Regions from separate parts of the Homo sapiens genome. Here region 2 is linked to region 1. Evidence: fine-mapped expression QTL. A gene starts in region 1. The other region holds a variant in brackets. All regions are shown on one strand. Distances are between the middles of the regions. Region 1 holds the start of SLC35D3 (solute carrier family 35 member D3). Region 2 has its middle 35 kb from the start of SLC35D3.

Region 1 (11,667 bases):
TATATAGTTGCAACGCGATGTTGCCCTTTGGCATGTTAGCATTAAAATTAACACTTATTTTTGAAGAAGTCATCATAACCCTGGCAAACCATTTCTAACTGCAGTATGTGAGGTCTCCTGCATCTTAAATGGCTTGTGGAGGCACCTCTGGAAATAGTCAATTGCCTGTGGAAACCAGCAAACCAGGGCCAATCACAAACCACAATTACACTTGCTCAGCTGCTTGTGGAGCCAAACTGATGGAGCTGAAACTTCATTTTTGCTTCTGCTTTTTGCTTTGATTTGATTTTTAGAAAAGAAAGAAAAATATAAGATGCTACTATCTGAGAATCTCAGCAACATGCTGGCAGATCTCAGTGCCCCCTCACTCTCAAAGTATCTCTCCTGCCTAGAGCTCACAGAAGGCTTCCTCCTTGGTGGACATGACCATTTATTACTTCTCAGACTCCATGTTAACTGAAATCTGGTGTGGATGGCTTTCGTACCTCAGTGCGATGGAGTGTTTTATCATTTTCTGTTTATTTGTTTGTCCTGTTACCAGGCTGTAGAGCAATGGCGCGATCTCGGCTCACTGCAACCTCCACCTCCCAGGTTCAAGTGATTCTCCTGCCTCAGCCTCCCGAGTAGCTGGGACTACAGGCGCGTGCCACCATGCCCTGTTTGTTTGTTTTTGAGACGGGGTCTCGCTCTGTTGCCCAGGCTGTAGTGTAGTGACACAATCAGAACTCACTGCAGCCTTGACTTCCCCGGCTCAGGTGATCATCCTACCACAGCCTCCTGAGTAGCTGGGACTACAGGTGCACACCAAAATTCTTGGCTAATTTTTGGTATTTTTTGCAGAGATGGGGTTTTGCTACGTTGCTCAGGCTTGCTTGAACTCCTGAGCTCAAGTCATTTGCTTGCCTTGGCCTCCCAAAGTGCTGGGTTACAGGCATGAGCCATTGCACCACACCATTAACAGCTTCCTTCACTGGAAGATGCATTTCTGTTTTTGTTGTTATTTCAAACCAAACAGCTTTGTTAATTTAGGAAGTTTCCAATGGTGCGGCCCCTACACTCGGATACTATGACCACACATTGGAGGCAAACACAAACAACTATACAGCAACAATAGAACATGTGTCTAAAATAAATTTCTAACAATGTATCCTTTAATAGTTAGACTCATACTTTATTTTGACAAATTTAAGATAGAAAAATATCATAATGTGAATATAGCAGTTGCTCTTTTTGTAACATGGTTTGGGATGTGCAGTGAAACTTGAAAGGACTTGCTTTACAGGTGGTCCCTCTTCTGGCTGGGTTTCAGTTAATTCTGAATTATATTCCAGCCATTGCATTTGCTTGAAAGAATATTGGACACAGTAAAAAAAAGAACAGGTTTGGCATTCAATAATAAATATTATAAAGCAATGAACCAAAACAACTTTTAAAATAATTACTGAAAGCAAACTTCAGACTTCATGATTAAAGCTAAGAACTCATATTTTCAAAATAGCTTTAACAGTTTCTATCAATATATAATACAATAATAGGACACTTATTTTTAAAAAACAAGTGAGTAGAATCAGAGTAAATATGATATTTCAGATGACTATAAACAGTAAACATCAATTCAATATATTTATATATCATTTCAGCAATATACTCTTTGCCCAGCTGGCGATAAAAACTGTAGTTCTATCATCAAAAAATGCATCCCTGAATGTCATCTTTGAACTTACTAAGTGCTGTCATCATTTCTACACTCCATCTTTGGAGGGGGTGGCTTAGGGACTCTTGGTACATGCAGATATTTAGTTATGGTTATAATGACAAAAAGTAAATGTGCCAGGAGTCTGAAGCAGAAACGTTGCCTTACTTTGTTAAGTAGCTTCACATTCTTTTGTCTCTGTGATGCCTCAGGTGAAGTCACACTAAATAATTCACACAGGTGCTAATTTTGTTGCTCTGTGTCAGTACCTTTCAGCTTCTTTCTTTTCTTCCCTTCCCCACTCCTCAAAGAATAAAACGGGGAGGCCTCTCATTAAAACACGTCATTTCTAACATATAAAATAAGTGTATGCACATAGGTACGTACATGCACCTCCTTCTCAAGGACTGGGTAACTCCTCGTTTTCTATCAAATAATCCTTCTTCATATACCTGGTTCCCCTAACCAACCTCCATACCTCGAGGTAAGCATCTTTTAACGACCTCCTGCTCCCTTCTTCAGAGCTCCCAGCCACCAGCGGGACTCCTCGGGGGCTGCCCCTGACCTCTTGCCTGCTCTCCTGAGCGGGGCCACCTGCTGCCTCCCCACCTTCTGACCGGCCATTTCCTCCCTCCCCGGGCAGCTCCTCCATCACGAACGGCAGCTGGTCTCCACTTAGCTGCGCCTCCTCTCCCCGAGGCTGGGCCTCCAGGTCCTCGTAGTTGCTTTGCTTTCTGGTCTCCATGAACTTGGCCACACAGTAAATGATAGAGCCCAGGGTGTTCACCACCACGCCGGCAATGAACAGAGAGGTGGGCTCCACGTCGCTGAAGGCCACCATGCCCACCGTGATGGTGGCGATGCTCTTCACCACACCCACGAAGCTGGTGGTCACGGCCGAATTGATGTAGGTGCAGTGCAGCGTGGTGAAGTTCATGGCGCAGCCGATCAGGATGCAGGCCACGAAGATGCAGACCATGGCCGGGTCCTTCCAGCCCGGGAAGGTCCAGGCGTGGATGGAGTCGGTGCTGGCGAAGGAGCAGATGACCAGCAGCGGGGTGGCAGAGACGGCGATGACGTACTGCGCGGTGAGCGGCCCGTGCTCGGTGTCTGCGCTGGCCTTCTGGATGAGCACCAGGTAGGCAGCGTGCACCAGCACCGCCAGCACTCCCGTGACGTACCCGATGGGGTCGCCCGTCAGGTCGCCGGCTCCTGCGGCGCACGAGGAGGACGGCCGAGCCCGGGCGGGAAGGAAAAAGAGAGAAGACAGCAGGTTGGCGTGGGCGGGGACCCACGGGGAAAACGCGTCGGGTAGGAAAGGAGACTGGGTTCGCGCCCCAGCTCTGCCCACCGGATTCCTGAGTGACAGACGCCCGCCGTCCCTCGGCCACCCGTGTCAAATGCGACAGCCAAACTCAGTGCTCAGAGCGCCTTCCCGCCATATCCCCGGGTCACTCCATCTTCCTCTGTCCAAGACAAAGGCCCCGGAGAGCGCAGATGCCCTCGGGGCAGGTGCTGTGGCTTCCCCGAGCTGGCACCGAGGTCACTTGGGCGCGTGGTACCTGCACCCCGGAGCCCCTGCCCCGTGGGGCACCAAAGGGAGAGGGAGCCCCAGCCAGTGGCCTGCAACCCGGAGCGGGCCAGGCGCGGGGGAGAACGCCTGTTCTGGCCCCCAGTGAAGCTTCCCCCTGCCCAGGCTCTCGTCTCGCTCAGCACCTGGGTCGTCTGCCCCAGGGCCGCAGCCCCCTGCGCAGCACGAGACACCCCGCAGTAGCCCCGGGAACCCTCAGCTTCGCCCCCATCCCCCACCTCCATTCCAGCCCCTCGTGACCCAAGGAAGTTCACGGCCCCCTCCTTCCGGCTTGGTCCAGGCTTGGAGGACTCCAGCTCCCAGGCTCAGGCGGCCCTCCCACCTCTCCCGGAGAATGGGGTGACAGGGGAAGACCAGGAGAGGGGGCGACAGGAAGGGCGATGCCGGGTGAAGCATGGGCGAGGGTCGGAAGCCAGGACATTAGGGGGCAGGGGGACTTGGTGGGGCGCTGGGGAGCTCTCTGGGTCTCGGAAGTCCCTTTTGCGAGCTGAGCGACCACTCTCAAAGCTCTCCGGCTCTCTCTGCCTCAGTCTCCCCATCTGGAAGTGAGGTCGTTGAACTCAGTGATCCCCGCGGTCTCTGCCCGACGGAGCGGGGTGGGTGGGGTCGGCTGGGGGTCGGCGCGGGGGCCCGCTCACCTGCCAGGGCGGCGCCGCAGGTGGTGATGAGCACCGCCGCCAGCACCCCTGGCGAGGGCGCGCCGTTCTTGAGCACCAGGACGCCGATGAGCATGGTGACCAGGGGCAGGCAGCGCTTGAAGACCACGTACATGGGCAGGCTGAGGCCGCGCAGGGACCAGAGCGTGAGGCTGGACTGCAGCGTGGAGAGCACCGCGACCCCCGCGAAGGAGCGCGCCAGGCTCAGACCGAAGGGGGGCACGGCGATGAGCCCGAGGCGCCGCAGCAGCTCCAGGCTCAGCGCCGCGGTGGAGCTGGTCAGGCACTGCACCAGGGTCAGGAAGGAGAACTGGTAGCGGCTGATGAGGAACTTGAGCAAGATGTTGAGGGAGCCCGAGAAGACCCCGTGCGCGATGGCCACCGAGATGCCCAGCACGCGGCCCCGGCACAGCTGCCGCATCGCGCCGGCCTCGCCGCACCCAGCGGTGGCGGAGCTCCGCGACCTGCGCGCGAGGAGCCGGGAGCAGCGGAGTGAGGGCGGCGGGGGCGCCCGCCCAGCGCGGCGGCGAAGGGCAGGGGGCGCCGGCTCGGCTGCAGAGGGCAGCTCCGGCCAGGCGTTCTTGCGGTTAGGCAGCTCTGCGTCCGACTGCCCCGCAGCTCCGGGGAGGCAGTGACGAGGGCGGGGGACTCCGAAAAGTGGCAGAGGTGGCGGGGGGGCCGGTCTGAGAGGAGTGGCGGGAATCCTAGCGACAGCTATTTGTAAGTGGGTGATGAGCCGCGGTGGGTTGTGTCCCGCGCGGTTTCACCGTCAGGGAAGACGCTCTGCGGAGGGAAGCGGGCGGCTGGGCGCCCCGGGGCGGCTGCCGCAGGGCGGGACGGGGGCTCTTGGGGCGCGGCGCCCCTCTCCCCCCACAGAGCCAGCGGCTCTCGCTTGCCCCTTCCTCCTGGCCGAGGGGCTTGGGTTGGAGGGATCGGGACACAGCTAAAGATTTTAGAAACAGCGCATCAGGATCGAGCGCCGTTTATTGGTCGCAACAAGTGACGGCGCCCCCAGCCCCCTCGCCCCGGCGCTGCAGCGGCTTTTTCCACCCACTGTCCCTCCCGGTGCAGCGGCGGGACCTCGTCCAGCTGCCCGCCAGGGAAGCGAAAACCGTCGGTGCCGGCGGGCCCCCGAAGCTCCCGATCCCGGCGACGACGCCCGGGCATCGGAGGAGGAACCCGCGGCCCGGGGCGCTGTCCAGGGGGTGCCTCGGAGCCCGGAAGCTGGCTCCTTCCGGTGCCAGGCCACGCGCACCGCTCTCCGCACGCCTTCCAGAGAGGGTCCCGGGATTATGCGCGCGGCTCCGGGGAAGCTTTCAGGGGGTTCAGTGGTCTCGCCCAGCAGCGGGGCCTGGTGGCGGGGACACATTCGAACTGAGGCAAAGATGAAAATAAGCAAACGCGCAGAAACGAAGTCACTAACACGAGTAGCCACCACCAGGAACCGAGGAGCTCGGGGGCGACGCTTCCCGAAGCGTGGGAGGGGAGGCTGGCTGCGCTCGCAGAATGGGAGAGTAGAGGGGGAGGGGGCGGGAACCCGGGGCCCCTCACCCTGCAGGGAGACTCCGCGTGGCGTTCTCCGGATCCCAGGGAACTGATCCCAGGGAACCCTCACCCTGCGGGACCGTCGTGGGTTGCTTTCGGAAGCAGGACAACCGGCAGGCGGAGGGCGGGGAGAGTCACCACCTCCCTGGGCCAGGGTTCACACCTTTGCACCACAGGACTTGTGAACTGTGTGTTTCCTATATGACTAAGAGAAAAAGGGAATTCTAATTTTGGAGAGGGAGTAAGGCTTCGGTAACTCTTTGTTCTGAATTCAGTTCCCTGGAAAGTAACTCGCGCGGACCTGTAGTTAAATCAGCAGCAGCCAAGGGTTTCGCTCAGCCGAGGTAACCGTTAAGCGCCAGACAGTTTGGTTTTCAGGCGATTTGAAATTTGTGGCCTTGGCCAGGGTTTGGCTATAAGGGAAAGGTTCGAGATCGCTGCGCTCCAGCACCCCTTTCGTTCACCACCAGCAGTTTATTTCTCTTAGCCCCGGGAATCGTAACCTCCTAACCTTTTAGCGCTGCATCACGTTGCCTTAATAGACAGGATCCATTTCTCTCGTGGTTCTTCTGTTTTCTGCCTCTTACTTCCACCTCTGTGCTGAACGCGACACTTCAGCCAAAGTGCTGAAGTCGTGATTTACCGCAACAGAGGAAGAAAAAAAAATTACAGCAGGGATCAGCAGCATCACAGCAGCCCTTCATTTGGGCCAGCATTTGGGGCTCTGGATGCTCACTTTGGTGAGCTCTAGAGAGCTCGGGGTCAACCAGTCCACCAGCTTATGTGCCCGGTGCCTAGGAGGGCCACGTCCCTGCTCCCGACAGGTGGGCACTCAAAAAAAGTTTGTGAATGGCCCAGGGTGCCAACTTTCCAGGAATAGCTGGAAAGCATTATACTGAAACACGTGCTTCCGGTTCTCTGGGGAGCCCTTGGTTTTTGTTGCTAAAACTTGTGGTTACACACTATTGGCTGTTTAAGTGACTCTGTTTTTGTAGAGTTAATGTTATTTAGGAAATAATGAAGTCTGAAGCACCAGTTCAAATTATGTGTATGTGTGTGGTATAGTCAAAATATATTGATTCAAAACTCTGAAAATTAACTTTTTACAGATATCAGCAAATAACAGATTTCTGCTTCTAGAGACTATCCCAATAAAAGCATGGCTGCTTTAAGCCATCCTAAGTGCATATTATTAATATAAAGAAGTGGCTGCACAAACCTACTTTTGGAATGATTCATTTCTGCCCGCAATTATAATTGCATCCATTTGTGATACTAACATTAGGTAAAAGATTTGGGGCTGATTCAGCTATCTTACTCTTCTCATTTATGCAAGACAATTTAGCTTAATATTTGAAACCTACAGAGGCATAAAACCGCACATTTTCTCCACTTTGTTGCATGCAATTCTTTTGGAAAGAAAAAAACCTTAACCCCCATCTCCCACAAAACCAGATACTAGATGAGCTCCTTTTAAAAATTGTGAAAAATTAAGAATACCATGTTTAGCGAGGTTAAATGATCTAGATGAATAAAAATGTAGATCTAAAGGTTAAATAGCTATTTGACCTATTGGTATCAGGGTACCAAGGGTCTAGACTCAAGCACATCACCTTTGGAGCTACTTAATAAATATTAATGACATTAAATAAATCCTTTAGTTTATCCATTCATTCAACAAACATATAGTACAAGTATTTTGTGCTAAGTATTCTGTTAGCCACAGAGGACTTAAAGATGAACACAGCGCCTTCATCCTTAGCAACAGTGGGATTGTGTGGCAGAAAAGGGGGGAGCGCCAGGAGGGCAAGTACATCAGCTTGACAGCAGTAGCAGACAAAGCTTCCTGGAGAAGGAATTACAGTGTCTTTGAAAACTTACTTCATTATTTCTAATTATAAAAGTAACACAGGCTCATTGTGGTACATAAAAGAAAAACAAATTTATAATTAAGTAAACGCGCTCTCTTCAGTGTTCACCATCCCCAACCTTACTACACAGAGCTTGCTGTGTTCAGTGTGGAAACTTTCAGTCTTTTTTGTATGTATGTTTATACACACGCAAACTCCTCCTTTAAAAAAATAACAAAACTAGGATATCATATATATTTGTCTATAATTTCCTACTTTAAAAAGCGTATTATGGTAATTAGCCTTCTAGATAGTCTCCAGTGATACCCGCTTCCTGGTATTCACACCCTTATGTTAACTCCTCCCACGCTGTACCAGGGTTGGTCTGTGTAGCTAACAGAACCTGGCAGAAGTGATGACGGTCACTCCTGACTTTAGGTTATACTGAGACTTCCATCTTGTATGTCCTTTTTTCTCTTGTATCATTGAGTCTGGGGAAGCCGAATGCCACATTGTAGGGACATTCTGCCTATGGAAAATCCCATGTGGTTGAGTAATTGAGGCCTGATAACCATGTGAATAGCTGTGATGTCATGAGAAAACCTGAGCTCAAACAACTCAGTTGTTTCTGGATTCCTGACCATAGAAACTGTGAGATGATAAATGTGTGTTGTTTAAAACTACTAAGTTTTGGAGTGATTTTTTACATAGAAATAGCATATTTTTTCAAATGACTTATTCTTTTCAATAACTGTTCTACAGTATAACCTTTCTGTTGACAGGCATTTGGGTTTTAGCAAACGATGTAATGAATACCCTTGGACATAGCCATACTTCTACAGGTATTTTGGGAAAGGGGGAGAGAGGGAATCCTAGAAGTGGAATTGCTGGGTCAAAGGGTAATTTAAAATTTTGGCCGGGTACGGTGGCTCATGCCTGTAATCCCAGCACTTTAGGAGGCCAAGCCAGGTAGATCACTTGAGGTCAGGAGTTCAAGACCAGCCTGATCAACATGGTGAAACCCTGTCTCTACTAAAAATACAAAAATTAGCCAGGTATGGTGGCACGTGCCTGTAATCTCAACTGCTCTGGAGGCTGAGGCAGCAGAATCACTGAAACCGGGAGGTGGAGGTTGCTGTGAGCCGAGATCATGCGGCTGCACTCCAGCCTGGGTAAAAGAGTGAGACTCCATCTCAAAAATAATAACATAAAATAAAATAAAATAAAATCTTGATTTGTTACCAAATTGCCTTCTAACAAAGCATATAACAGTATTCTCACTTTAACCAATACTAGATATTATCAATATTTTTAATGTTTGCCAAACTGACAAGCAAAAATAAAAAGGGATCTCATTTTTAATTTGCATTTATCATTGAGACAGTCTGACTGAAACTTTTTGAAATGTAGTAAACATTTGTCTCTCCACTTCTGTGAATTATTTATTGATATCCTTGTCCAATTTTTGTCTGGTTGTCTTCTTAGTGATTTTTTTTTTTTTTTTGAGACGGAATTTCGCTCTTGTTGCCCAGGCTGGAGTGCAATGTCTCGATCTCAGCTCACTGCAACCTCTGCCTCCAGAGTTCAAGCGATTCTCCTGTCTAGGCCTCCTGAGTAGCTGGGACTACAGGCGTGCACCACCACCTTCAGCTAATTTTTTATATTTTTAGTAGAGACGGGGTTTCACCATGTTGGCCAGGCTGGTCTCGGAGTCCTAAATTCAGGTGATCCACCTGCCTCGGCCTCCCAAAGTGCTGGGATCACAGGCGTGAGCCACCATGCGCAGCCTTCTTAGTGATTTTTAAGAGCCCTTTGTAAAGTTTGGCTATTAACCACCCATTCTATATAAGTTGCCAGTATATCCTTTTGTTATGTCCTCTTTTAGCTTTGCTAGTGATGTGTTTTGCAATTTTAATTTTTGTATGTTGTCAATCTTATTCTTTAGTTATTTAATGGGATTTTTATTTATTTTTATTTATTATTATTATTTCTTGAGATGGAGTTTCCCTCTTGTTACCCAGGATGGAGTGCAATGGTGCAATCTCAGCTCACTGCAGCCTCCGCCTCCTGGGTTAAAGCAATTCTCCTGCCTCAGCCTCCCAAGTAGCTGGAATTACAAGCACTCGCCACCATGCCTGGCTAATATTTTGTAGTTTTAGTAGTGACGGGGTTTCACCATGTTGGCCAGGCTGGCCTCAGGTGATCCACCCACCTTGGCCTCCTAAAGCGCTGGGATTATAGGCTTGAGCCACCACGCCCAGCCTAATGTGACTTTTAAATTATGGGTAAGAACTTACCAAGCCAAGAGCAGGGCAGTCCAGGCACATGGACCAGCTGAAAACTTGCATCACTTACATGAAGAATTTGTGAGCACACTGGTTTTGTGTGAAGAGAAGCGGTGCTGCAGACAGAGGCAAGGGCTATCCCCAGAGGACCCTGGCTGCTTGGTTAGTAAGCTTGAATTTTTCCCCATAGGTAATCCTATAAGCAGAGAAAGGTTTTATACTGAAATTGATGTAATCAGATTGCATTTGAGATCCGTCTCCGGCAGCTGTGTTGAGGAGGATGGCTCTGAGGACACAGAACTGGAAACAGACACACCATTTAGGAAGCTGCTGCAATTGTCCAGAGAAAAGCTAATGATGGCTTGAACTGGGGCAATGGTGGTTGGATTGAGGGGAAGAGATATAAGGGAGCAGTGATGAGGGGGTAAAAAGGATCTCATTTGATGTGTGTGGAGAAGTGGGAATAAGGGAAGGACCAAGGATGGTGTTTAGGTCTTTAGCTTGACCCAAATGGATCTTTTGTTAACAGCTTGACTTTTGACAACAAATGAAAAGGCATGTGTAGGAGTAAAAGCTGGGTTAGTAGGCAAGTGAGTTTGGTTGGAACAAAATGAATGCAAAGGCTTGTGGGAAACCCAGGTGGGGAAGGTAGGTGTACAGATTTGAGAATATTATTAACATGAAAGTAAAAAACAATTAAGTGGATCAGCATATACAAGGAAAAGCCTGTTAAGTAAAAAATTCGAGTTCATTTTTGGAAGAGCCAAATTATTGCTAAGATACACAGTTAAGAAGTGCCAAAGGCAGAAAGGATAGCTGACTCTCAGCCTGGATCTCCCTGGGTGTGATGGACCTTGGTAGGGTCACTCCAGACTAAGGTTCAGCTTAGCTCTTGAGACTTGGAAACTCAATTCTGTCAGTTCTCTCAGGAATAATCAGGTACAGCCAGAGAGTTCTACATCTTAACTATTTCTCAGTGTGCTAATTTCTGTTATTCCTAAGAAAAGGAGGCTATGTGGCAGGACCATGGGTTTGGATTCAATCATTCCAGATTTCAAATTCGTTTCATTATTTTTTCGCTATTATGACTCCTGAGAACGTTGGCTTCCTTGTCCTGAAAATAAGGAGGGCTACCTTGCAGGGATGTTATAGAGATTAAAAGTGATAACATATATAAAGCATCTTACACGGTGCCCTGACCACAATCAGTAACTGAGTTCCCTGCAGGTGTAGGAGGAGCTTGTGGGGAGGCAGACAAGATGAAAGCTAAGAGCTCAGCAGCCAGGAGACAAATGCTGATTTCCCAACCCGGAAAGAATGACTGGTCATCCTCTGAAGTCCAAATGCTGCTTAGCTTGTGAGCTACCAAGGATTCAAAAATCTTGCACATTGTCTTTCAGGAGAGAATCCAGGTCTGCTCCTCAGAGTTTTCCAATTCTAGTTCCAGGGAACCAACTGGATAAGCATTCACCCACTCTCATATTGATAGACTCCAAGAACCTGAGTTATATATTATGAAGCCAATGATCTGAATATCTCTAACATCCCTGGAATAGAGGGAAAAGAATAAATCAAGGGAGAGGTTAGTTTTTAAATTACAAGTCTTTGTTTCGAAAGATACGTGATAGAACGTTTTGTTAATAAAAATCTCTTGCATTCTAGAAGGAAAGGAAATAATTTCATTTCATTGTAAATATTATCTGGGTTAGATATTTTCTGAGACAAGGTCTGTCACCTAGGCTGGAATGCCTTAGTCTGGGTCACTGCAGCCTCAACTTCCCAGGATCAAGCAATCCTCCTGCCTTAGCCTCCTGAGTATCTGGGACTACAGGCACACGTCACCATGCCTGACTACTTTGGGTTGGATACTTTTAGGGCCTATCACAAATTCTGCTGATACAGAGAACACCCATTGTAGACCCACTTTTACTGACCACACCTTGGTGTAATGCCATTAGTTCATATAGAGGCAAGCAGCAAGAAAAAAGGCTGTCAAACTCATCAGTGTGACAACTCTAAGGATGTGGTTAAGCACCATGTTCCCTGC
Region 2 (11,667 bases), 36 kb before region 1:
ACGCTTGGGACTCTAATTACAGACTAATAAATAGTTCAAGCAGCCTTAAAAAGAAGAGGTTGTGGGTCCGAAAGGAGTTGATCCCTTCATCTACCATATTCCACACTCTCTCTTAGTGCCCCTTTTTCATTTTAGAAGATTCCCTATTCTTTTCTTTTTTGTCTTTCCTTTCTTTGTTTTTTTTAAGATGGAGTCTCACTCTGTCCCCCAGGCTGGAGTAGAGTGGCACAATTTCAGCTCACTGCAACCTCCACCTCCCAGGTTCAAGCAATTCTCCTGCCTCAGCCTCCTGAGAAGCTGGGATTACAGGCGTGTGCTACCATGCCCGGGTAATTTTTGTATTTTTAGTAGAGATGGGGTTTCACCATGATGGCCAGGAGGGTCTCAAACCCCTGACCTCAGGTGATCTGCCTGCCTCAGCCTCCCAAAGTGCTGGGGTTATAGGCGTGAGCCACTGCACCCGGCCCTTTCTTTCTTTCTTTCTTTTAGTTACAAATCTGAATGGCCAACCCATGGCCCCACTGTTAGAACCTAAGCATTTCTGCTCTGCATCACGCCTATGACCCTACCCAATGATTCATTTATGAGTGTCTATTATGCACCAGGTGTGGAACTAAATGATGGGAATTCAAAGACAAAGTAAAATCTTGCCTTGAAAGTACTTAAAACATAATCGATCCAATACCCTTCACTATCTTTATTTATCTGCATCTCTCTCTCTCTCTCTCTCTCTCTGCCACTGTTTATTTTGGCTCCATGTAGCCCAGAAGTTAAGAATACAGGCTCTGCGCTCAAATGGGACTCGAATCTCAGTTCCACCTTCCATCCCCACACGTCCAGAGTTCTTGTCCTGTTCATATGTTCAGTAACTTACTCATGGTCACACAGCTTTTAAGAGGTGGAACCAGAAAGGGACAGAGCCATGATCCAAAGCCAAGCAGTCTGACTTCTGATTCCATGCACCAAACTACAGTGCTTGTTAAAAACTGGGGAAAATATTTCAATATCTGTATCAGACGAACGGTTAATATTAAAACCTTTTCTGCTTTTCCAAAATACACACATGCTATTTTTCACTTAAAAATGTATAATGTAAAGTTCCTTCCAGGTTCTTACTATACTTTTTTTTTTTTTTAAGATAGTCCCACCCAGGCTGCAGTGCAGCAGCGCAATCTTGGCTCACTGCCACCTTCACCTCCCAGATTCAAGCAATTCTCATGCCTCAGCCTCCCAAGTAGCTGGGATTACAGACATGCACCACCACACCTGGCTAATTTTTGTATTTTTAGTAGAGACAGGTTTTGCCATGTTGGCCAGGCTGGTCTCGAACTCCTGGCCCCAAGTGATCCTCCTGCCTCGGCCTCCCAAAGTGCTGGGATTACAGGTGTGAGCCACTGCACCCAGCCTTAATATACATTTATATAATTATTTTAATAATTTAAAAATCCTATATACATGTAATCCATATAGTCCAGCTATACATATATGTATAGCATACATATACGTATATCTACAAATATATATGTATTATATCATAGTATTTATTATTTATATGTTTATAAATATATATTTATATATTTAACCAATCTCCATTGTTGAGCATTTAGGCTGTTAACAATTTTCACTAGTATAAATCACAGTGGCCATACTCCTGATAAACACAGGTATATCTATGTCTATTTATTTCTTCAGGATAAATACCTACAAGTAAAATGCCAGATCAAAGAATATTCACTTTCTAATACTTTTAAGAGCTGAAGCCCAAGCGCCCTTCGGGAAGCCTCAAGCCAACAGGATGTAAGAGCATCTGCTTCCACCACACCCTTGCCAATGCTGATAAAATTTTGTCAGACTGAGAAGTAGAAGCTTTTCAAATATCTGTTTCTATTGATTAATAGTTGAACATTTCTTTGTTAGGTAATAATCATTTGTAATTCTTTTGCAAATTGCCTTTCCTGTTTTTTTTTCTAATAGAGTTTTGAAATTTTTCTTATCGATTATAATTTTTTCCTTATTATTTATATTAACCTTTTGTCTGATACAGATGTTGAAATATTTTCCCCCAATTTTTAATAAGCTTGGTAATGGAGAATTTTTTTGCCCTATAAAAGTTATATGTGGCTGGGCACAGTGGCTCACACTTGTAATCCTAGCACTTTGGGAGGCTGGGGTGGGCAGATCGCTTGAGCCCAGGAGTTCAAGACCAGCCTCAGCAACATGGTGAAACCCAGTCTACAAAAAATACAAAAATCAGCTGGGCATGGTGGCATGCGTCTGTGGTCCCAGCTACTCCTTCTAGGGAGGCTGAGGTGGGAGTATCACTTAAGCCTGGGAGATGGAGGTTGCAGTGAATCCTGATCCCGCCACTGCACTCCTGCCTGGGTGACAGAGCGAGACCCTGTGTAGCAGGACGAGCCGCAGACAAAACTCCTCTGACACTGGGTTAAAGAAGGAAGGAGCTTTATTTGGCTGGGAACTTCAGCAGACTTGCATCTCAAAAGCCAAGCTCTCCTCACTAAGCAATTCCTGTCCATTTTAAGGGCTTACAACTCTAAGGGGGTCCGTGTGAGAGTGTCCTGATGGATTGAGCAAGCAGGGGGTACTGCATGCACCAGTAATCAGAACAGAACAGAACAGGACAGGGATTTTCACAGTGCTTTTCCATACAATGTCTGGAATCTATAGATAACATAACCGGTTAGGTCAGGGGTCGATCTTTAACTACCAGGCCCAGGGCGCGGCACTGGGCTGTCTGCCTGTGGATTTCATTTCTGCCTTTTAGTTTTTACTTCTTTCTTTGGAGGCGGAAATTGGGCATAAGACAATATGAGGGGTGGTCTCCTCCCTTACCTGTACCCGCCCCCAAAAAAGAAAAAAATGATATGTGTGTGTACACGAGGCAGGATATTTGCCTGACCCCTTTGTGGGACTCGAGACAGGGGTGCATCGTTTACTCAGCCCACAGCTCTCCACTCCTCACAGGAGGGAGTGCACGAGCAAACAAGGCGGGGACTGGAGTGCACGAGGCCTGGAACTGGCCAGCCGCTTCGGCACCAGCAAGAGCAAGCTCTGTGCGGGCCCCATGGCAACATCCAGGTGGGGGTGCCTGTGACACCTGGAGCCCCAGAGGGCGTGTTACAGTGCTCTCTTAGCTCTGCTGTCCTCTGATGGCTTAAGTGTTAACAGCTCAGTGAGCCCTTTGCCTCGTCGTGTGAGACGACTGCCCTCCACCAGCGAGGGCAAAGGGCCAGTGTGACAGCCTTTTATGTCCACACTTGTGGCTCCCAAGCTCTTGTCTGGCATCCAGGAAAAATGAGGTCGCATGAACGAATTGAAGGATGGTAAATGCAGGGGATTTTATTGCCAAGGAAAGTGGCTCTCAGAGGAAATGGGAGCTGAAAAGGGGATGGGGGGTAGGTAATCTTCCCCTGAAGTCCAGCCGTCTCCTCTCAGTGGAAAGGGGAGCTGAAAAGGGGATGGGGGATAGGTAATCTTCCCCTGAAGTCCAGCTGTCTTTGGCCAGATTCTTCTCCAAATTCTTCTCTGAAGCTCAAGCTGTCCCTCTGAAGTCAAGCTGCTTCTCTCCAACTTCCAGCCCTAGACCCCAACGCCCAGCTGCTTCTCCTCTCTGTTGGCTGAGTCTGGAGTCTTCTATGCACAGGATAGGGGCAGAGTGGGCCATAGGTAGTTTAGGGAAAGGCAGCATTCACATGGGAAAACAGGGATAGAAGTTCTCACTTTGGACCACGGGTTTCAGGCTTTTTGGCTTGAGGGTGAGATTTCGTCAGGGACCACACTTTTCTGCCTAGAATTTCTCTGCCCCCGTCCCTATCATGCATATAAATGGCATTCTCGATGCCAAGATTATACCTATGTTCACTTATATTAGGATTGTCGTGCAACCACCAGAAGCATGACTGACATCAATAGAGGGAAATAAGGCATTGTAACCTAACCAGATAGAAATATGACTAAATTGAAGTATTTCCACTTTTTAAATAATAACTTTATTTAATTTTTAATAACTGAAAAGATGGGAAAGAAGCAAAATATCAGACTCATCAAGAAATGATTCCACAGATCCTTATCTGGCAGCTCAGAATAATTGAGTGACTTGGCCAAGGTCATGGTATTAATGGATGAAAGGGATTTGAACCATGACCACCTGGCATCAGAGTCTAAACTCTACATCATTTAACTTCTCTGAAAAACTAAGTCCCTTATTCTATCCCCACACCCTGTAGTTCATCCTTACTCTATTCATGGCTTTTAAGAGCTGAAGCCCAAGCGCTAGAGCCCAGAGCTAAAAGAGCACTGTAACAAGCCCTCTGGGGCTCCAGGTGTCACAGGCACCCCCACCTGGATGCTGCTTAATCGCCTAGATGCTTACTCTGGCCGGAGAAACTTTGACTTCACCTGTGGATGTCAAGCTCCTGCAGGTTCTTAGGAGCGTTCTGGTTGTTGGCAAGATTGCCTTCCTTTGGGCTTTTTGAGTTGCCGGCTTTGGTGGTGAACCAGTGCATTGGCTCCTGACTGCTACTTACTTTTCAGGGCTTAGTGAAAAATGACAATGTGGGGTCCCTTTTGCAAAAACCAAGAGAAAGGATTTTTCTTTCTCCCCCTCACGGTTTCTCTCTTGCCCCTTCCTGGTGCTTGTAATTTGCTATGTAATGCCACACGCCCACCGGCACAATACTGCAAGGTGAGTGCAGATCCTCAGAAGCAAGGGGTTGGCGTGGGGGGCAGGGGGTGAGCATGCGCATGAGACCACCAGGGCCTGCACTGGGGCAGGGGGTGGTTGCAGTGGGGGAACCTGGAACTGGGTGGGTGGATGGTGGGGGAACCCGGGACTGGGTGGTCGGGGGGAGCCTGGGACTGGGTGGGGGGTGGGAGGGGAGCCTGGGGCTGCATGGGTAGGTGGTAGGGGAGTCTGAGAGTGGGTGGGTAGGTGGTGGGGGAGTCTGGGACTGGGTGGGTGGGTGGGAAGGGAGCCTGGGGCTGGGTGGGCGGTGGTGGGGGAGCCTGGGACTGGGTGGGTGGATGGTGGGGGAGAGCCTGGGACTGGGTGGGTGGGTGGGGGGGTGGAAGGGGAGCCTGCAGCCAGGGCCAGGAAAGGCAGGGGGGTGGAAGGGGAGCCTGCAGCCAGGGCCAGGAAAGGCAGGGAGGTGGCGGGAGGCTCCAAGGTCCCAGCTTCTGCTCCATCATCCCATTAGGACTTCACTTAAAAGACACCATGTATTCAAAGATAAATCAGAATTCCAAGACGGTGGCTGCAGACATTGGGAGTGCGGGGCCCCCTTCTGGGCTCAGAGGCTGTGTGCCAGCACTAGTCGCAGGCCTATGCAGCCGGCCCTGCCCCAGCTCCTCTTTCTCCATTGCAGTGCCTCCTCCTTGAGCTCCAGTCGGCCTGCATTGGGCCGTAATTAACTTTTTTCTTCCTCCCCTCCTAACCACCCCAGCCCACAGCCCACAGCCCAC[T/AGCCCACT]ACCCACAACCACTGAGCTGGCTGAGATAAGCACAAACAGCCACAAGGAAAGCCAAGAGGCCCTTCTGTGTGAGGCCGACTAGAGTCCCAGAGTGCATTCCACTTAATTACCGGGAGAAATTCTCTAGAACTGCTTTGGATACTATTCCTAGAACCAATTAGCCCGAACCTTTCATTTACATGCAACTCGAAGATGCAAAAACAAATAACTATGGTACTGTATTTTAACAGCTTAAACAGCTCTGTTTGTTTAGCTAAAACAGATGAATAGCTTTCCAAAAATACACAGAAGAGCACTTCCGGCCTGATGAATGCATAACAATGACAGCTGCGAAGTCACAAAGGAAGTACCATTTAGGTGGCATTTGCTAACAAGTTGTATTTTAGGAGAGAAAGGAAAAAGTTAACATAATTAAAGTCAAAGCCAAAGTAGAAACCTTTTCCCATCTACTCGATTTTATAAATTAACAACTTGATTAGCAGTTTGAAATATGATCTGGTTGCCATCAGCCAGGAGCAGGGTAGAGCATTTCATAAGGGAAGGCTCCATCTCAGAGGACTTTTTTGACTTTACATTTAAATAGAAATTATATACATGACATTATTCTATAATTGTGTGACTATAACATTTGCTTTTGCTTTCATAAAGATATATGTTAACAATGGGATACAGGCCGGGCATAGTGGCTCACACTTGTAATCCCAGCACTTTGGGAGGCCAAGGCGGGTGGATCACATGAGGCCAGGAGTTCAAGACCAGCCTGGACAACATGGCAAAACCCCATCTCTACTAAAAATACAAAAAAAAAAAAAAAAAAATTAGTCGGGCATGGTGGCGCATGCCTGTAGTCCCAGCTACTAGAGAGGCTGAGGTGGAGGTTGCAGTGAGCTGAAATTACATCACTGCACTCCTGAGATCACGTCACTGTTTTTTGAAACAGAGTGAGACTCTGTTTAAAAAAACAAAGAAACAAAAAAAAAAAACCTATCAGTTACATATATATGCTTAGGAGCCATATTTAGAAAGCAGAATTTCTACAAATAGGCAGGTGAGTTTCTCAATTCCAGTGAATAGTTAAAAGCTATGCTAAAAAATATAAAACCAATTTTCAAATATTTTTATTTTAAAATTATGTGCTCAAAATAAGTTAAGAGTTTCATGAACTTTGAATTCATGCAAAGATTTTAAATTTTTATTTTGTTGTTTTACTTCTCATGTCTCATTCAAAGATGGCTTTTAAATTTTAACTTAATTAATTTTCCACGCAAAAAGCCTAATCTTACCAAGGATGATTTTGAATTACATTGGTAACAATGTAAACCTGATAGCAAACATTTCTTGCTATTAATAGAGATCTGTCAATTTGCAAATGAATAGACTTATCCGAGAAATGGCCTGTTTCTGAATGACACTCGAGATGTTCATGTGTATTACACACAAAATAAGGTTACACACAAAATAAAGACCCTTAGCCATTTTGAAAGTGCTGAGAGATAGTATACTCCAGTTTAGAGAGAACTGAACTACATTATTCCAGCTCTAAGGACAGTTTAATTTAATTTGGGAAGAGGAAGCAACATTTGCAGCTAAAACAATGTTAATGATGGAAACCGGGGACACAGAATCAAAGTGCCCAGGCTTTATCTTAAGTCCTCTCCCCTTTTTCCAAATTGTCCCCTTCCTATCTTCTGATCTTCACCTGATTTATAAACCTTGAATTCTAATCTTAATTCCTTTCTTGATTAAACCCCTGAATAAAAATCAGCCCCTCCAACACACTGTCTCACAACCAAACATGTATTATTATTTAGCCTGCTTTGGTGTTAATTGACAAAACAAAACTCAAGACAAAAACACTGGGTTCTAAATGTTGTGCTGGTGAGAGTGAGTCAATGGTCAGTTTATAACACAGAGGGGCCAGCCACAGTCAAAACTGAATTAACTCTTGTGTGCTCTTTCAGTTCTCCCTTATTTCCCTACTTGACTGGTACTCCCTTCCTCTTCCCCCACAGCCCTCTCTACACCCTACTCCCATCCTTGCCCATCCTATCGTTCAAAAGAGTTCTTACCACCTTTTTCATTAATGCATCCATCATGCCCTACATTGGTGATCCTCAAAATAGGCACATGTCGTATTATGGAAATCACTTCCCAGATCCTCATCGTCCTTAGGAGCTTCTGCCTAAAACCATTCTTCCTGAGAAAGAGCCTGTGTGTTTCAGGTGTCTTGCTGGTTCTCTGTTCCCATCTCCCCTTTCACAGGCACCCTTTCTTCACAAGAATAAAAAGGAAGGCACCCATCTCATCTACCAGGACTTGCCACCATGGAATGCCTCAGGGCTTAAAAGCCTCTGAGGTACCCAAAATGAAATTAATCTGAAATCCTTGTGTTGGTGTTGAGACCATAAAAGACTCCAACAACTGGGTAACAAATCCTTTTCCAAGTCAAGTAGCTTCCACCTATTTGGAGGAAGGGCTGATAAATCATTAAAAAATTTTTGGCTAGGTTCGGTGGCTCATGCCTGTAATCCCAGCACTTTGGGAGGCCAAGGCGGGTGGATCACGAGGTCAGGAGAGTGAGACCATCCTGGCTAACACAGTGAAACCCCATCTCTACTAAAAATACAAAAATCAGCTGGGCGTGGTGGTGGGTGCCTTAGTCCCAGCTACTGAAGAGGTTAAGGCAGGAGAATTGCTTGAACCCGGGAGGTGGAGGTTGCAGTGAGCCGAGAGCACAACACTGCACTCCAGCCTGGGCAACAAGAGTGAGACTCCATCTCAAACAAACAAACAAAAAAATTCACAATATATCACCATATGATTTTGTTAGGACATAACTTGGAGAAGTGAATGGCTTTCCTACAACAAAACACTTCTCATTTCCAACTACTTATTTTAGTGAACAAAGTTTCTCAACACTTACATATGTAAAAATGACAAATATGATGAGAATTGGAATGTAACCCTATGCCTTTCTGATTTTACTATCATTTGGTCCACTAATGCACTAGCAATATACCAGTGGCGATGAGATGTTGTCTGAGAAAGCACATTTCAAGGCCAGTGCACACTAATTGTTCAAAAAGACCCATGACACAGAATACTTCTCTTTATTGTGTCAGAAATGTTATGAGAATTGGAGCTGAACCCTATCTTTTTCTAAGTAATATTCATCCATGAATATATAAAATAACTTTGTTTTTTGCTTTTTTAATCCTGCTCCTCCTGCAATGAAATAACTTTTTAAATGCCCTATCTTGTTAAGAGATGTGGTTCTAATGGAATTGTATCTTTATATTTAGTAACTACTAATACTTGTAATATAATGATGTTGAGGACCTATGAGTACTAATAACAATTGTAATGATAACTAAATCCAAAAGAAAACCTTTAAACACTTGGAGTCCTATGGTCAAAGAAAATAGAACATCTATTTCAATTTATATACATATTTTTGTTTCAGAAATATATTTAACATTTTTAAGCACAGAAAATACTAGGATAAAATTCTATTGGAGAATGAAATTGAAATATGATTTCAAAGAGTTTAAGGAAAAAGAATAGGGTATAAAATTTCTCTCTCATGTCTACCTGTGCCTTTCTTATCATTATGCTACGTAGCCTCCATTGAATACATTAAAAATAATTTAACAATGTTATTTTAAAGCAAAAGTGGAAATTACCATCCTTTGCAATTGTGTAGATTTAAGTTGAATTTTTTTAATATCAATTTTTAAATGTTCAAAGAATACATAGCATTTAAAAATCCTCTTTGGGGACACACAAGCAAAAAATTTTAAGCCCACTGCTCCACCTCATTCCAGTGCACACCTCTTCCCTCCCCAGCGTTGCCATCAATAAGGTTCTGCTTTCAGCTATGGTGCAGTAGTTAGGAGCACAGGCTTTTGAGTCAGAAGGACGTAGGACCAGGACCAGGTGAGGCAAGCAAGGACCAAGGGTGCAAATCTTGAGACACTCATCTCCGGTTCAGGCTCACATCAACCCTGCACACACATGCACAGATCAGAGAGTTTGCCTCCCTAAGTGTTGCACTCTAGGTGCCCCTCTTGCCTCACCCCAGTCTCTTCCACTTATTACTGAGTGATCTCAGTAGATTATTTAGCTCCTGTGAACCTCAGTGATCCCCTTAATAAAATGGGGGAAATAATGCTATTGTCCAGAGTTGCAAGAGAGGATTAAATTAGAGAGCATGCAGCGAACTTGGCAAAGTGCCCATCTGTGGTCGCCAGTCAATAAGTGGTTGCTCTTTATTCTGACACCAAGGAAGTGTCTGATAAACAGTTCATAATGAGACAATGATCACTGGATGACTTAATGGATTATCATTCCCAAAAAGGTTGATTTTAGGAGGCCTTTGGAGAGGCAATATTTCTCTCTCTCTCTCTCTCTTTCTCTCTCTCTCTCACACACACACACACACACACACACAGAGCCAGAGTGGCCGACCGGTTAAGTCTGTAGGGGATAAAAGGTAATACATCTTTTCTTCACCACCGTGAGGTTTTCGACTGACACCCCCATAACGAAGGACAGATTAACAAGATAAAAGCATAACCAATTGCATTTAACCTAAGTTTTATGTGACACAGGAGCCTTCAGAAGTAAAGACCCCATGACCTAGGAGACACTGTGTGTTTTATGCTTAGGTTTGATGAGGAATTGACAGCATGTAGAAATGTGATTGGACAAAAGGGTGTGATCTCATGGTAATAGACTGAAGGAGGGATCCCAGTAAGGCCTGTTTGTTTAGATTTTTCTTGGTCCGGTTGTAGGGCAGGACCCTTCTGGAATGAGGGTTTTGTGGCCCAGTGTCAGGCGAGGTAGGTCAGAGAATCCCCTATGACCAATGCTCCCGGGAGAAGGTGGCAGAAGCCAGAGTGACCTTGCTTCAGTCATTTTCTCCATCGCCAAGGTGCCGTATTTTGGGATGCGTTCTGAGCCTTAACAGGGCTCTCCTCCTTTCCTCCTGTCTGTCTTCTGCTTACACTCCTATGTGCCCTCTCTGTGCTTGGGAAAATCCCTATCTTTTTTTTTTTTTTTTAATCCCTGTCTTTCAAAGCAAACTCGAAAAGGGCAGGAACCTTGCCTTTCCTTTGCAATTAGCGTAGACATAGGTTATAAGCACTCAGTCTGCATAATACTTTAGCATAATTATATTATAGTACAATATAACCTAACAACATGGTCTCCAAAAAGGCACTATTATGGAAATAACTAACATGTGTAGACAGGGTTAGCCTCCATGTGGGTTCAGTGAATAATTCTGTGAAAAGCCTAGTGAAGATTTAATAATCTCCTTTCCTGCCCAACTATTAGTATCTGCCTATAGAATCTGTACCCACCCTGAAGCTTCCAGTTACCAAACACTTAGTGTGGATCAGGCAGGGCAACCTACAGGATGCAGAGCTGAGGAAACCCAATGCTTGCCTGCAATTACCTTAAAATTGAAAGGATATATTTAATTTCTTCTCTTGGCTCTTTATTTTCTCTTTTCTAGCTTCACAACATCAAAACTGGTATTCTCATTTGTTTGTTTGTTGTTTGGTTTTATATGTCCGGAGTCACAGAGATACCAAGGGTTCACTCAACCCTGCTGTGTAAGGGAATTTTACTCATTCAAATATCCATTAGCAAATATTTTTGAGTGCTTAGACTATGTCAAGCAACTGTTTTAGGTGCTAAGGATGTAGCGGAAACAACAACAGAAAAAAAAAAAACCTGCTGTTAAGATGGAGTGAAGGAGGTGTCCTTTTTAATAAATTAAAACTGCAGCTGGATGTGGTGGCTCATGCTAGCACTTTGGGAGGCCAAGGAAAATGGATTGCTCAAGTCCAGGAGTTCCAGACAAGCCAAGGCAACATGGTGAAACCCCATCTCCACAGAAAATACAAAAAATTAGCCAAGCGTGGTAGAGCACACCTATAGTCCTGGCTACTCGGGAGTCTGAGATGGGAGGATGGCCTGAGTCCGGGAGGCCAAGGCTGTAGTGAGCCATGATCATGCCACTGCACTCCAGCCTGGGTGACAGAGTGAGACTCTGTCTCAAAAAAAAAAAAAAAAAAATTAATTAATTAATATCTAAATCCTCAAGGCTTAAGCAGACCGTGAGGGCCCGGTCTCTCTCCTGAGCTACCTGCTCCTTAGGCTTCTCTCACTTCAATTACTTC

Evidence for each region.
Region 2: its variant is fine-mapped to the expression of SLC35D3 in whole blood (INTERVAL, PIP above 0.99).

Annotation. Positions count from the first base shown.
Region 1 is chr6:136,915,123-136,926,789 of GRCh38, reverse strand. It overlaps SLC35D3 (solute carrier family 35 member D3), which reads right to left and starts at 4,489. Exons shown (of 2, transcript NM_001008783.3): 1 at 3,923-4,489; 2 at 1,130-2,905. The coding sequence starts at 4,361. The coding sequence ends at 2,094. RefSeq lists an enhancer at 4,961-5,467.
Region 2 is chr6:136,951,112-136,962,778 of GRCh38, reverse strand. No RefSeq gene overlaps it. Among named protein-coding and RNA genes, the nearest start is that of SLC35D3, 35 kb to the right of the region's middle. RefSeq lists enhancers at 3,950-4,516, 5,653-6,221 and a silencer at 5,194-5,488. The variant T/AGCCCACT (reference allele first, on the strand shown) is at 5,479.